2 separate regions of the Homo sapiens genome follow, and region 2 is linked to region 1. A link means that fine-mapping ties the variant in region 1 to the expression of a gene that starts in the linked region. Tissue or cell type: whole blood. Region 1 holds a variant in brackets; the other region holds the start of a gene. All regions are shown on one strand. Distances are from middle to middle.

What was found. PIP is the estimated chance that this variant, and not a neighbour inherited with it, causes the effect.
Region 2: VWDE starts here. The variant in region 1 is fine-mapped to the expression of VWDE in whole blood (TOPMed, PIP above 0.99).

Annotation. Positions count from the first base shown.
Region 1 is chr7:12,287,335-12,295,446 of GRCh38, reverse strand. No RefSeq gene overlaps it. Among named protein-coding and RNA genes, the nearest start is that of TMEM106B, 80 kb to the right of the region's middle. The variant A/G (reference allele first, on the strand shown) is at 4,643.
Region 2 is chr7:12,400,085-12,408,187 of GRCh38, reverse strand. VWDE (von Willebrand factor D and EGF domains) reads left to right here and starts at 4,323. Exons shown (of 29, transcript NM_001135924.3): 1 at 4,323-4,529. The coding sequence starts at 4,472. It overlaps LOC105375154 (a long non-coding RNA gene), which reads right to left and starts at 2,050. Exons shown (of 3, transcript XR_927035.4): 1 at 859-2,050; 2 at 532-650; 3 at 1-372. RefSeq lists silencers at 3,401-3,590, 4,528-4,577, 4,471-4,765 and enhancers at 3,902-4,467, 4,468-5,035.

The DNA of each region.
Region 1 (8,112 bases):
TAAGTATGCATGGATCAAATATGAGTATTATACTAATCATTCTGAAAACAATGTTTTGATCAGAGCTGTTTCACCCTGGTGAAAGTAAGTCTTTAATGGGGGTAGGGAAGCTAAACTTCAGAAAAGAGATAGCTGTTTAGGGGAGTAGATAATGCCATGGGCTTTCAGGATTAAGGGATTTTTGGCAAAGATGCCTTATGGTGAGGAATAGAATGAAGGCAAGAACAGCAAGCATAGGTGAGACTATAAAGAGGATATCCATAAAATGTTAGTGACACTTATGTTTTGTGATCTTTAGCTTGAGGTCTCCAATTTCTTCACACTGGTGCTTCGGGTGCTCCTCTGGGTCAACAGAGGAAAGTCACTTTCCAAGGTCTTTACTCAAGTATAATGAATCCAAGAATCTATTCCAGTGACTTTCACTGCTGAAGGAGTAGAAAGAAGTACAGTGTAAGATCCCTCCCAACATGGGCGTAGAGAGAGAGAAAAGGAAGGAAGTGCCTTGATCAGAACTAAGTCCCATGGGTTGAACAGAAGTAGCCCTAGTTCATGAGGTTGGGCTTCCGACAGTTTTAGTTCCTGTTGGAAATGGGCCAAAGAAGTTACATATTTAATCAAACCAGAGGTTTCTTGGTCTAGCAAGAAATCATTAATGAGAAAAGGCCATCTATATATCTTTTTGAAGGGGATTAAACCCAGCTTCAAAGGAACATTTCTGGAAAGAAAAGTAATCCAGGGAGATGAGTGTCTTGAGAGACAGTTTTCTGAAGTGCCTTTTGATAGTATCATTAGTGTTCTATACCTTTCCTGAGGATTGTTGTCTCCAGGCACAGTGAAGATGGTATTGTATGCCTAGTGCCTTTGAGACTCCTGGCTTACAGCTACCTTGAACAAGGGACTATTATCACTCTGGAGGTACATTGGGAGTCCAAAGTGGGGAATTATCTCATTAATTAGTACTTTCATCACCTCATAGGCTTTCTCTGCTCAACATAAAAATGCTTCTATCCAGTTAATGATGGTATCTACCCATACCAGGAAGTACTGGATGTCCCTTATCTTTGGCATATGGGTGAAATTCATCTTCCAGTCTTCCCCTGGGTAGCCTCCCATTCTTGGGTTCCAGGGGGGAGAAGCTGTCAATTGAGATTATTTTTAAGGCAAGTCTCACAAGCATTAATGACCTATTTCACTATTTTTAGCAGATTTTTACCTGAGAACAACCTCTAGGCCAATGATATGTTTTATCCTTACCTAGGTAGAAGGCTTGTGAAAGATTTTAAGAACTTTCCATTGGCTGGAAGCTGAAGAAGGTGAAGTTTGCCATCTTCTGATTGTAGCTATCCTGAGGACTGAAAGGCGTATCCCTGAGAGGTGGCCTATTCTATTTCCACAGGAGAATATTGAGGTTTTGTTTCTCTTGTGGAGCCCTCCCAGATCAGAGGGACCTCAAGTGGATCAGATATCTGGGGCCCTCTCACTGCCAATTTAGCTGCTTGGTCTGCCAACTTATTTCCTTCAGCTATTTCATTCATCCCTTTTTGGTGGCCTTTAAAATGTGTTACTGCCACTTCCCATGGGAGGAAAACTGAGAATAATAGTCTGTTAATTTCCTGATGGTATTTAATGGAAGACCCATTTGCTGTGAGGAAATCCATCTCTTTCCAGATAGTGGCATGGGCATGGAGGACTAGGAAAGCATGCTTAGATTCAGCATAAATGTTAACTGCTTTCCCTTTGCTTAATTCAAGTGCCCTCAGGAGGGCAATTAGCTCAGCTAGTTGAGCACTTGTGCCTGAGGACAGGCACGCTCTCAGCAGTGTCATTCAGGCTATTGCATACCCTCCTTTATGGATCCCTTGTTCTACAAAAGAACTTCTGTTCGTAAAGAGAGTCCAGTCTGAGTTCTCTAAGGGGGTTTCTTTGAGGTACTCCTTGGCCACATAGGTTTGTGCTACTGTCTGTTTGCAGTCATATTCAAGCTCCCCAGCTTCCTTTGGGAGGAAGGTGGCTGGGTTTAGGGATGGACAGGTTCTTAACTGGACTTCAGATCCCTCTAATAGCAGAGCTTGATATTTGAGGAGGCAGTTGTCCATTTGCCAGAGACTCTCCTTAGGAGACAGCAGTCCTGCCACATTACGTGGGTATAAATCGTTATGTTATTTCCCATGGTTAACTTAGTAGCCTTTGGTACCAGCAAGTCTACTGCTGCAACTGCCCAGAGGTAGGCTGGCCATCCTTTAGCTACCAAACCAAGCTCCTTGTTTAAGTAGCCTATGTGCTGCTGGGCTGAACCTCAGGCCCAGGTTAGAACTCTCAGGGCCATTTCCTTCCTTTGTGATACATAAAGATTAAGTCTCTCCTATGGGAAGACTAAGGACAGGTGCCTCAAGCAAGGCTTCTTTGAATTGGTCAAAGGCCCTTTTAGTCTCTTGTTCCCAAATTAGGGAGTGAGTCTTAGCTGCCTGGGTCTCCCTAATAGGTGATATAAGGAATGAGCTACTTCTCCATACCCAGGTATCTATAATCTGCAGAATCCTGTAATGCCCAAGAATCCCTTCAGTTGCTTGAGGGTTTTGAGGAGGGTAAAGGAGGAGATGGGCTTAATTCTTTATTCCCCTACTGCCCTGGTCCCCTCTAACAAGACTAGACCTAGGTACTTCACTGAAGTCTGAGAGAGCTGAGCCTTAAGATTTTGAGACCTTATATCCTCTGTTAGCCAGAAAATTAAGAAAAGCCTTATTATCCTCCTCAGAGATTTCCTCAGCTGGGGCACAAAGGAAAATGTGATCTACATATTGTAAAACTTTAACCTGAGAATAAAAGAACTCAGAGATACTTTGACAACTCCTGCTCAAACAAGTGGGGGCTGTCTCACAATCCCTGAGGTAACACTGCATAGGTTAGCTGAGTGGTCTGGTTGAATGGATCCTTGAATGCAAACTAATATTGGGAGTTGGGGTGTAACAGTATGCATAAAAAGACATCCTTTATGTCATAGACTGTGAACCATTAATTCCCTTAGGTATTTGAGTAAGCAGGGTATAGGGGTTTGGGAACCACCAGGTGAATTCAAACCACAGCCTCATTAACGAGGCAGAGGTCCTGGACCAGTCTCCACTCTCTGTTGGGTTAACGTACCTCCAGTACTGGGGTATTAAAAGGGTTGTTTCAGGGTTTGAAGAAGCCCTGCATCCTCAAGTTATCAATGGTGGCTTCTAGCCCATTTCTAATTTCTGGTTTTAGGGATATTATCTCTGATTAGGGAAGAAGGTAGGGTCCTTAAGATGGATCCAGACTGGCATGGCAGTTGTGGCTCTGCCAATTTTCCCTTGAGTTGCCCAAACTTCTGGGTTAACGTTGGTCTCCACTAGGAGGAGACAAAGAGTCTGTCCCAGAGCCATAAGGATGGTGGTTCCCATATGAGCTAATATATCCATACTCAGCAGAGGAGTTGGGCTTTCAGGTATGATTTAAAAGTCTTGAGTAAACATGAGGTCTCCTGAACTACAACTAAGAGGTGAGGAAAAATATTGGGTTAAAGGCTTTAGCTGACTCCCCAGCTGGAGGCACCTCCGGGGTTTGGAATTGCCCTTTGCAACTTATAACCCAGCTAGGCCCTAGTGCAAAGGAACATAAGGCATTTTTTTAATCTGAGGGTCAAAGGACTCCCAGTGATTCAGGATGCACTCAAAAGGAGTACAGGCTGAAAATGGTTTGTTACCCATTTGAAAGAGAGGGTAAAAGGCATCCCTTAGCTCCTTTCTCTCTTTCAGTGAAAACCCAGGGCATGTGAGGAAAAAAAAAAAGTGTCCTTTCCTTCCCCAAGTCTTGGCAACCTCTATAGGTGCCACCCTTTCCTTCCCTGAGTTGTGGCAGCTTCTATAGGTGCCATGCATGAATACAAGTGTGACCTCTACCAATGAAGTGGGAATGCATAGTTAGTAGGGGTAGTCGCACTTACCTATGCTGTGCCCTAGCCTTCTGCTGTCGGTAACCTTTGGGTTTGCTAGACCCCATCTGTGCTATGAATGTGAGCAAGTTCTTCACCCATGAAATGGTAAGGAGTAGTCAGCAGCAGTAGTCGTGCTCGCTTGCGCTGCACTCTAGTCTTCTGCTGTTGACTGCCTCTGGGTCCCTCAGGACTCCAAAGCTTGGAAAATATACTGGAGTGATGTTAAAGTGAAGCTGTAAAACCAGATGCTCCTCAAACAAGGGACAGAAAGCGAGTCCCAGGAATTGGGGCCTAATAAGATGTCTCCCAAAAGGAAAAAATTAATCCCTCACATAGAAAAGCTCCCTGTATTCACAGGACTATATTGACTACTGACATGGTGGGAAAAAATAAAAACCTTAAATGCAGGGGAGGGAAGGTGCCTGGGGGAAAGTAGCCTCTTGCCCTATGCTAATGGGTTTCCTCAACAGGGGAAAGAAAACTCTCAATCATTACATCCTCCTTGCTTCTAAGAATAGACAGAAAACACATTGTTCTGAATTACGCTCCTGATGACTAAGCCAAATGCACATTCTACCCACTTATATTATCTCTGTGCTTTGCAACAACACCCTTAACATTGTATTAATATATAAAGAAAAGATAAAAGCCACTAAAGCCATGAAAGAAAGAAGGATAATGCCATAG[A/G]AAAGACTGGAGGTCCTAACACCAACACCCTAATGGGATGTTGGTGACTGGAGTCAGTCCAGTGGCCTTTTGGGTAACATCAAAGTATAGCCTCAGCCAGATAATTGCCCCAGAACTTCCTTCCAATTCCATGCAATGGCTAGACCTCCATGAAGAAAACTGGATTGAAGCAAAGCCAACATTCCCAACACCCAAGGGCGATGGGTGATTGACAAACCCCTCCCCAGCAAGCCTGTCCTCTGAAGACATGCCATTCACTCTTAACTGGCTAACAGAGGCCCAATGCCTCATCTGTTTTTGGAAAAAAAAAAATCTCCATACAAGAAGCCTTGGAATGAAAGTGAAAGAGGTCCACTCTTATTCACCCTTCTGCCAATCCCAGATGAGCCCCTGGAAATGTTACAGGATGTTTTTCAGTGCTGCTCTGCCAGCCGGAAATCTCTGCAGCTGCTGTGACCTCTTCCTGAAGCCTCACTGAGGCCCACTGGGCTCACTCCACCCACTCAGCCCTGGAGGCTGAGCTTGGCTCATGCAATGGCTCAGATCTTGTGCCCGCCATGAGATCCACATTCAGCCTGTGGCTGGACTGGGCAGGCTGTGACCAGCTTCCACCTTGGGCACCGGCATCTGGATGAGAGGAACATGGTGGTGCCCCAAATTTGGATATGCCAACAACCATAGAGCCCCAAGGGGTGTTACAGCTCTCGCCCAGGGAGTCCCGAGGTCTGAGTCCCCAAGAAGTGTTACAGCTTACTCTTGTTCCTGTGGCCTGCAGCTCAGGGAATGGGGCCATATCACAGCTCCTTCGGTCCTGCTGCCTGCGGCTCAGTGAATGGGGGTGTGTCACAGCTCATTCAGTCCCACTGCCTGAAGTTCAGTGAATGGGGGCGTATGGCACCCAGCAGTTTTTTTCACTCCCATAGGTTGGTGAGTGGGAGTGCATGTTATAGCTCTTTTCACACCCACAACTTGGTAGGTTCTAGGTTCTTTCCCCATGATGAAGAGGAATGAGGTATGCAGACAGCAGAGAGTGAGCAAGGCTGAGAAGAATTTTACTGAGTGACAGGAAAGTTCTTGACATGAGAGGGGAACAGAAGTGGGTACCTCTGTGTGTGAGAGGGGGCCCAAAAGCAGGTAGTCACCTGTGAGGCTGAGTCTAGGGCTTTTATGGGCTCAGAATTGGGGAGTGCATGCTGATTGGTTCGTGGGCAGGCCTGGAAAAAGCACCATTCGATTGGCTAAAAGACATCGAGGAGGTTCTTACTCTGGTCATGTACTCTACCTGGAACTGGAAGCTCAGTTTTCAGGCATCAGGCTGTCTTTGGCTTGAAGATCAGGGTTCAACAGGGACCTGTTCGTCTGCCTAGGAATTTAACTGTCTCCTATTGCTATCATCGAGACACCAAAATGTCTACAAGTGTAATCATTTATCATGATCTACATGGCTGCTGATATGGTCTAAATTACCCTTAAGATCCCACTTTAAGGTCCGTAAAATACTGCTAAGTAAAAATCCACTGTGACACACTTACTCCTCTCTTGCTGAGATGCCCTGCTGCACTCTTCTGCAGTGTTCTTTCTTTCTTTCTTTTCTTTCTTTCAATAAAACTTTCCTTTCCAAAACTATACCATTGTGGGTAAATTCTTTTTACTATCTGCGAGCCAGTCACTTTCCATTGCTGGGGCTCTGGTACATCACCCAACACAAATCAGTCTTCCAAAAACTCAGGGATCAGGGTTTTAAAGGATAATTTGGTGTGTAGGGGGATGGAAAGTAGGGAGTGCTGATTGGTCAGGTCATTGATGAAATCATAGGGAGTCAATGCTGTCCTCTTCTGATAAGTTGATTCCTGGGTGGGGGTCGCAAGACAAGTTGAGACAGTTAGCAATCTGAGTGATGCCAGCTTATCCATCTAATGCAGTGTCTGCAAAAGATCTCAAGCACTAATCTTAGGTTTAACAATAGTGATGTTACCCCCACGAGCAATTTGGAAAGGTTCAAAATCTTGCAGCCTCTAGCTGCATGAGTCCTAAACCATAACTTCTAATCTTGTAGCTAATTTGTTAGTCCTGCAAAGGCAGTTTAATCCCCAGGCAGGAAGGGGATTTGTTTTGAGAAAAAGCTGTTATTGTCATTTCAAAGTTAAACTATAAACTAAGTCCCTCCCAAAGTTAGTTCGGCCTACACCCAGGAATGAACAAGGACAGTTAGAGGTTAGAAGCAAGATGAAGTCAGTTAAGTCAGACCTATTTCACTGTCATAATTTTCTGTATAATTTTTGCAAAGGTGGTTTCAGTTTTTGAGCCTCAACACTTTAAACCAACAAAATTATATATTTTCAATGTGCAGAGGAAATGGCAAATATGAATATTTCTAAAACCAAATGCAATTTATTCTAATTTTAAGTGAATTGACTAGATTATAACACGAAGGGAATGTGAAACAGCACTCTCTGTATTGCTTAGACAGGGAACAACATAAACAATAGATCTGTCTAAAAAATGTGTAACTGGACTCAGTAAACTAGACACCTGTTATCAATTATTAAGGACACATGTAAAGGGAATTGTTCAACATACTTTCCTTCCTCCCACTGCCTTATAGTCTTAAAGGTTCTTTGTTCCTTCTGATTTATTGCCCTGTTTATGTATTTCAGCCCCAGAGTCATAGTTAAGGGGACAGCTAAAATTAAGGTACTAAGGAATAGTCTGTCAGTCTTTGCCCCGGGGTAGAAGGCTGCTATAAAGCAAATGAAAAATGAGGCATCATTAAGAATAAATTGTAGGTTTTGAGTATGTTCCTTTATTCTCAAAATGGGTTTTCTTTTTTGAGAATAGCCTCTTTCCATTTGAATTGGCTTGTATTATAAGCTGATTGTGGCATTCTGTTTTCATCTGAGTCTGCCCAGATGTTCCCTTCATCTACAGGATAAATTTCTACTTCATATACAAAGCTCTGTATTTTGAAGCCCTATCTGATGAGTTAGGTTTCAAAATCCTAGAAAAGTTCTCAGAAACTTATGACAGTTATTTTTGTTAAATTTATGCTGTCCTTTCTAATATGAACATAACTTTTGTTAAATTTTTCTTTTAAGCTTTGAAAATTTTTTGCATAAATTCATTGAATTTTACATTTAAAAGCAGTATCTTTATATTAAAAATTGTAACCTTAATAGTTAGCTTTGAAATGTGTTTTAATAGCTCTTTTTCACTTTTTATTTCCACTGGTGATTAAAAGAATGTTTTTAATATTTAGTTTCTTTATAAATATATTTAATTGATAAATACAGAAAACCATATATGAGTATGAATTAAACATCACACGGTTGTGACTAACCCCTACTGACTCCAATGGGGATGGCACTATGTCCAAGAGGACAGAGGAGACCCAGACCCAAAGAACAAAGACATAGGGTTTATGGAGGACTTACGTATGGGGCAGTCAAGGAGTGGTGGGCTAGACAGGAAGA
Region 2 (8,103 bases), 110 kb before region 1:
TGTTACATATGTATACATGTGCCATGTTGGTGTGCTGCACCCATTAACTCATCATTAGCATTAGGTATATCTCCTAAGGCTATCCCTCCCCCCTACCCCCACCCCACAACAGTCCCCGGAGTGTGATGTTCCCCTTCCTGTGTCCACGTGTTCTCATTGTTCGGTTCCCACCTATGAGTGAGAACATGCGGTGTTTGGTTTTTTATCCTTGCGATAGTTCGCTGAGAATGATGGTTTCCAGTTTCATCCATGTCCCTACAAAGGACATGAACTCATCATTTTTTATGGCTGTGTAGTATTCCATGGTGTATATGTGCCACATTTTCCTAATCCAAAACAGGAAACATAGGCAGTCCTCGAAAGATTCTGGAGCTGTTGAGTGGAAAGCCATCAGGAATTAGCATATCTCTCTTTCTGTCACTGTCTGTCTGTCTCTCTTCCTCTCTGTCTTTTTGTGTGTGTGTGCACGTGTGGACGTGTATGAGTGCTTTTCTCTGTTTCTCTATTCTCACATGTTGTTTCTCACCTCACCTTCATTTTGGTCATCCACTTTTGTCTTTTTCCTCCCTCAGCTGATCAGTTTTCATTACTTGACCACACTTATAGCCACATTCAATGAGTCCTCAACGGTGTCCATAGGTTATTGAAAACTGCGATGTAAAGTGAAACAACATGTAATGAAACCAGTTTTACTACAGACAAATTGATATCAACATGAGTTAAATTACTATACCATATTTCTGGTCACAAAAACATCACCAACTTCTAAAAAAAGACCAAAATACTTCTAATATTAAACAGTAAAATAAACTATACATACATTGAGTAAAGATTAATGAAAACAAGATAATTATTTACCTCCTTACTCCAGTTCAGGATCACAGGTGGCCAGATCCTACACCAGGAGCTCAGGGCATGAGGTGTAAACCAGCTCTCTTCAGGAAGCCATCCTACCGCAGGGCGCGCTCACATACCCAACCACAATCACTCAAGCAGGGCCTATGTAGACATGCCAATTCACCCAACACACAGAGAGTTGAGAAGTGGAGGGAAACGGGAGTACCCAGAGAAGACCCACATAGACATGGAAAGAACGTGCCAATTCCACATAGACATTGGCCTCTGCTGGAAATCGATTTTTTCCATCAGTGTTATAACAAAATAACGTTAAACAAAATGACCAAGGACCTGCTGTATGTTTTAGCCTCTGCTTCTGAGTGTACTTGTGTTCAGCTCAAGTAAACCCCAGAAGCAATCCTATCAATTTTACATTTCTGGAAAAGGGCTCACTCATTTAGTAAAACATGGGATGAGGAATTCATATGTTACATAAATATGTATTTTCCAGGAAGGTTACTCCAAACTGTGCAGACACTGTAATAGAGTAGTGCCAAGAAATGATGCACCTTTATATAATAAGACATAAGAGAAAGTATAATTATGTAGAATATTACCCTAGTTCTAATAACAGTAAACTGTTACATTCGACCATAATAGCTACTTTGGACCAAATGCTATTCTGAGTGCTCTTTCTCCAGATGCTCTTCCACGCTCCCAGCCACACACAGGCATGCACATACACTTTTGATTCTTTAAGTCTATGGGGTACTATTATTGTCATTTCTATTGTACAGAAAAATGAGGTTAAGAGGAGTTGAGTGTGCTGTTCAAGGTTACACTTCTGATAAATAGGTAGCAGATCTAGAATTACAGCCCAGGTGTTTTTAACCTAGGATTTGTGGACTTAATCACTGGGTTTTTCTGCCCCTTGAATTTGGTATTTTTTTTCACTCAAGCCCATCACTTTGTAAATTAACCTGACAAAAACTGAGTTATCTCCTTTTCCTAGAAAATTATCATTTGAAAATTTTCTCCTGTTAATCTTTTAATTTAAGCTATATTGTACTTATTAGCACTTGGCTTCATTTCTTCTTCCCTCTGACATTCTTATTATTTGTCTCAGTGATATTTACTGCATTTTACAAGTGCTGTCAGTCTCTATATTGCGGGGTACCATGCATCCATTGTTTTTAATGTTCAAAAATATAAAAAAGAATCTTATACCAATTTTTGATTAACTTCACGAGACATAGATTAAAACATTTTCATTACTTTTTGTTTTCCATACAGTTCTATAACTAATTTTTTTTTTTTTTTTTTTTTTTTTTGAGATGGAATCTTGCTCTGTCGCCCAGGCTGGAGTACAGAGGAGCTATCTTGGCTCACTGCAACCTCTGCCTCCTGGGCTCAAACGATTCTCCTGCCTCAGCCTCCCGAGTAGATGGGACTACAGGCGAACGCCACCACGCCCATCTAATGTTTTGTATTTTTAGTAGAGATGGGGTTTCACCATGTTGGCCAGGCTGGTCTTGAACTCCTGACCTCAGGTGATCCGCCTGCCTCGACCTCCCAAAGCACTGGGATTACAGGCGTGATATAACCAGCATTTAATTGATACATTCTTGCAGATCCAAGCCAGGTTACTGAGACTTGAAAAAAAATTCTTAAGTTGCTTTTAGTTTTTTCCATCTTTAGTCACATGGAGGGAAGTTGGGTTTTGGCACAAGTTTATTGTAAACTCATAAACTCATAAACAATCAAAAACTGAAGAAAAAAATAAGGCCCACGATACCTGAAATTGTATTTTGATGGAAGTCAGATAAGTAATGTTGTCCTCCAAGAAAGTATAAAAGTTTACTACATTTGTATAGATACTGCTAGAAAATAAATTCACAAAAGTCCTGCTATGATTTGATTCACATCAAATTACTTTGTTCCTGGTGATTTCACAAATAGATTGAGAAAACTGACATTTAATTTCTTGTCTGTTTTATTAGAATTTTTTAAGCGGAAACAAAAGACTTAACTGTACACTAAGAAATCTCTGGGTTTTCATTGTGCCTACATTATATTGCCCTTCCATACTTAAGCCTTAAGATAAAAATCACCTGTCTACCGTCCACCAAAAAGTAATATTTTATTTTTAATCCAGAAAATTGGGTGCCCTTGCTGCATTTGAAAGATGGCTACACACAAGTATTGTGTACCAAAAAGAAATTATTTCCAATATGGGTTAATATTTTTACTATGGAGATGATAAGCTTTAAAATTTTAAATGGTAATTTACCTTTCAAATTAAAAATAAAGAATTATATGAAATTAAAAAAATACTTGTTTATGCATTTGGACACCTCCTGTTTCCACCACCATGCCTAGGCCAACCTTGAACCTCCAAATTTGTGGGTGGAACCTTGGTGCCCACTTGGACCCCCAAACTATCCTCTTCAGGTAAAGGCTCTGTGAGAACCAAGTGCAAGGTGATGGATGGGAGACTCAAGGAATGAGACAGCCAGGGAAAAACTAGGACAGTGAGGTTTCATTTTCAGACATAAAAAGATGTAGAATCAGTTGAAAAAAGGACCCTGTTCCTCTGCAGAGGCAACCACACTTCTGAAGACCTTAGACCTGGCACGGTGGCTCACGCCTGTAATCCCAGCATTTTGGGAGACTGAGGGGGAAGATCGCTTGACGCCAGGAGTTCAAGGCTCCAGCGAGCTGTGACTGTGCCACTGCACTCCAGCCTGGGTGACAGAGTGAGACCTTGTCTCGAACAAAACAAAACAAAACAAAAACGAGGTTGGGGGAAGACATTAGAGCCCTCTGATCTTCTAATAACTCCCAGGTCAACCTTGGGAGTCGTGTGGCCATGTGCTAAAGCGTCCTGGGACAACTGTAAGAGCTCTGGGAATCACTGGCAAATACAGGTGACAAACCTCATGGTTTGGCTAGTGTCTAAATGCGGTCCTTTCCACTTCTGAAAACCTGTCACAGAGGCAGAAGAAAAGGCATCTACTGTTGCAACGTTAGTGTCTACTCCTCCTCCTGTCGTTCATCACTGAGATCTAAGGTGACAGGAGCATTTTCAGCGCCTTCGCCTTGGGGTGCAAACCAGTAGCGCCCATTACGCAGTTAGGAATCCGTCTGCAGATACAATCATGGGAAACTTCCCCTTCCAACGGAACCTTGTGAGGCTTCTTTTATGCGAGGTCCATCTGAGCAGTTTCTAGGATTACCAAGTTTTCATACAGCCTCTGTTAGAACAGCAAGACGCAGCGGGCGGAGAGCTACATCCCTGTAGCTTGACTCCTGGCTGTGCGACTGCACGGTGACATCCAAGGCGGCGGAGCCACTGCCGGTACACGCTGGGCTATGGGGACAGGTTGGGCGTGGCTTTCAGGTCAGCCAGCAGCCAAAATGGGAAGGGAGGAGTCGCAGACGGATTACGCGAAGGCTCTATCCCACGAAAGGACTGGGTGCACCCCAGAACGAGGACGCGGAGCTTCCCTGTTCCAAGCAGCAACAGACTGAGAAAATCCAAGAAAGGAGGCCCGAGGGGCTGCTGTGGCCCCATCCTCCTGGCACCCGCGGCCCGGGCTCTGCGACGCCTTTCGCCCCACCTGCGGAAGCAGCGATGCCTGGCGGAGCCTGCGTGCTGGTGATCGCGCTGATGTTCCTGGCCTGGGGGGAAGGTAAGCGAGGTAGGGCGCGCGGGGGTGGGCGCGCAGTGGCGCCGCGTGGGCGGTAGAGGGACTAGGCTAGACTTTTTGGACGACTTGGGGAGCGTCCCTGTGCGTTTTAAGGCAGCAAGCGATGTTTGTTCCTCACCCGCCTCCTCTCTGTCCCTCTGCTGTCTTTGAAAAGGTCAATTTCCAGCTTGAAAACTCTACACTTTTCTTTTGCGCACATGCGGTTGTTGCCTCCTCTTACTCTACGACCCTTGGTTCTGTTTTTGGTTGTTTCCTGCTGTTATCCTGCTCTTTGAGGTCATTGTAATTTACTGTAAGAAACTTTCGCCGGATCTGCAAGGTATGCTAGCCGCAAGTGGACCTGAATTCTCAGAACAGAGTTGAATTCCATACTGCACGAATTCCACCTCCAACCGGACCCTCAGAAATAATTCATTGGTGAACATTTTATCCCTACAATAAATCACCAAGTTAAGTTTTGTATATCCGTATTATACTGTATTATGGTTTTTGTATATATATGTTAGAATCAGTTTTGGCACTGTAAAAGAGATCTCTGTGGAGCGAATACTCCCCTCCTACTTCTTTAATCCATGACAAAGAACATTTAGTTTAAAATACAGTGAAGTTAAACCAAAACTACTTTCATTAGCCCTTTTTGCTTGTTTTTTGTGTTCATACAGATAGGAATATTAATGAAAGGTGACTTGTTCTTATATTGCAAGTTTCCTTACGTTTTTCAGAAAAAGTCTGATCTGTGTTCAACCATCTGCAGCTTGAAAAAACATTATGTACAACATTTATAGCAGTCCAGGGTATAGTTTTGTCTTATCATTTTTTGATCTTAACTCATTTTACTGATGTAAGTTTGCTTTGTATAAGGGGAATACAAACACTATCCTATACAAAACTTAAAAATAAAATACTAAAATCAAATTTATTATTTTCTGCAATGATATTTTTTCTGGTCCTTCTTTGGTTTGCTTACAGCGTTACTAAATCTTTATGAATAACTTTAAAAAATACATGTAATAACATATATCTGTTCATTACAGTTAGATAAATATTTCCAGGAAAAAAATGACCAATGTTTATAAAGGAAGATGATTTCATGTTTACTATAGACCGCATAACCCTTTTTTGCCTCTATATAATAGCTTTGTAATCTCTCTGCTGAAGACAAATATTACCCATTACCAGGTTTTAAGTTCATAACATTGGTAACATTGTCAAGTTCTTTATGTTTAATGGAGTAAAACTAGAAGACGAGGTAAATGGAAAATGCATTTATTGAGACTTCTTTTTTTCAAATAGCTTTATTAAGATGTTCATATACCATACAAATCACTCAAAGTGTGCGACTCTATGGTTTTTCATTTTCACAGATATGTGTATATTCAGAGTATATTTACAGGTATATGCAGCGATGACCACAGTCAATTTTAGAACATATTTATCAATCAGAAAGAAATACTATACCCTGGGCTATCATGCCGCATGCCGGCTATCACCCTCCCTTTCTCCCCAGCGATAAGGAATTACTAATCTACTTTCTGTCTCATTGCATTTGCCTATTCTGGATATTTTATGTAAACTGAATCATATAATAGGTTGTCTTTTGTGACTGGCTTACTTCATCTAGCACAGTATTATCAAGGTTCATTCATCTTGTAGCATGTACCAGTATTTCATTCCTTTTTAAGATAGAATAATGTTCCATTGTGTGGATATACTATATTTTGTATGTACATTCATTTGTTGATGAACATTTGAGTTGTTTCCACCTTTTGACTATTATAAATAATGTTGCTATAAAGCACCGAGGTACAAGTTTTGTTTGGATGTATGTTTTCATTTCTCCGAGATATATGCCTAGGAGTGGAAATACCGGGTCATAGGGTAACTCTGTGATTAACTACTTAAGGAACAGCCAGGATGTTTTCCAAAGTGGCTGTGCTGTTTTGTATTTCTGCAACAGTGTGTAAAGCTTCTAACTTCTTCATGTTTCCATCAACACTTTTTATTAACTGAGATTTGGATTCTACCTATCCTCGTGGTTGTGAAGTGGTATTTCATTGTAGTTTGATTGTCATTTTCCTAATGGCTAATGATGTCAAGCATTTTAATGCCCTTATGAGAAATTTGCTTATTCTCTTCAGAGAAATACTCAGATCTTGCCATTTTAAAAAATGAGTACTTGGCCTTTTTCTTATTGAGTTGTATAAGTTATTTGCATATTCCAGATATAATTTTCTTATTGGATATGTGATTTGCAATTATTTTCTCCCATTCTGTGGGTCGTGGAAATAATCCCCTGTGGATACTGAGGGGCTACTATACTTTAGTTTTTTTAGTTGATTCCTTAGAATTTTCTATATGGAGATGGTATTACTTATTCCTTTCCAATCTGGATATCTTTTATTTATTTATTTTGGTTAATCCCCCTGGGTAGAATTAGCTATTCTAAAGTACAATGTGGCATTGAAAAGGTGAGAGTAGACATACTTGTCTTATTCCTGATTTTATAGGAAAGCATCTAGTCTTTCTTCATCACATAAAATGTAAGCTATGGGATTTTCGTATATATCCTTTATCAAGTTGAGGAAACTTCCTTCTATTCCTAGTTTGTTGAGTGTTTTTATCATGAAAAGGTGTTGGATTTTTAAAAATGCTTTCCCTGTGTCTGTTGAGATGAACATGTGGATTTCAGCTTTTATGCTATCTATGTGGTTTATTATAGTAATTCGATTTTAGTTATTAAACCAACCTTGTTTTCCTGGAATAAATCTCACTTGGTCATAATTTTTCTATATGTATGCTTTATGTTCCTGGATTCTGTTTGCTGAAAATTTTTTCACTCATATTCCAGAGATGTATTGGTTTATAGTCAGCTTTTCTTGTTATATATATTTCTGGCTTTCCTGTCGGGGTAGCCAGGATAATGGGCTATAATACCGGGCTCGTACAATGAGGTGGAAAGTGTTCCATCTTCTTCTATTTTTTGAAAGTGTTTGAGACAAATTGGTGGTAATTCTTTTTGAAATGTTTGGTAGAATTTAGCATTGATGCCATCTGGGCCAGGTCTTTTCTTTGTGGGTAGTTTTTTGACTGATTTGATATTTTTACTTGTTATAAATCTATTTGGATTGTATTTTTCTTCTTGAGTTGGTTTTGCAGCTCCTGTCTTTTTAGAAATTTGTCAATCTCATCTAAGTTATCTATAATTATTGGCATATAGCAGTCATAGTATTCCTTAATAAGGTTTTCAGTAGTGTCCCCTATTTCATTCCTGCTTCTTGTCATTTGAATCTTCTCTCTTCTTTTCTCCATAAATCTAGTTAGAGGTCCGTCAGTTTTGTTGATTCTTTCAAAGAACCAGCTTTTGGTTTCACTGATTTTTCTCTATTGTTTTTCTATACTCAGTTCCATCAATTTTATATCCAATCTTTAAAATTTCCTTCCTTCTGCTTCCTTTAGGTTTAGAATGCTCTTATTTTTACAGTGTCTTAAGGTGCAAGGTTAACTTGATGTTCATCTTTTTCTCCTATACTATAGGCATATTCCTGTCTATACATGT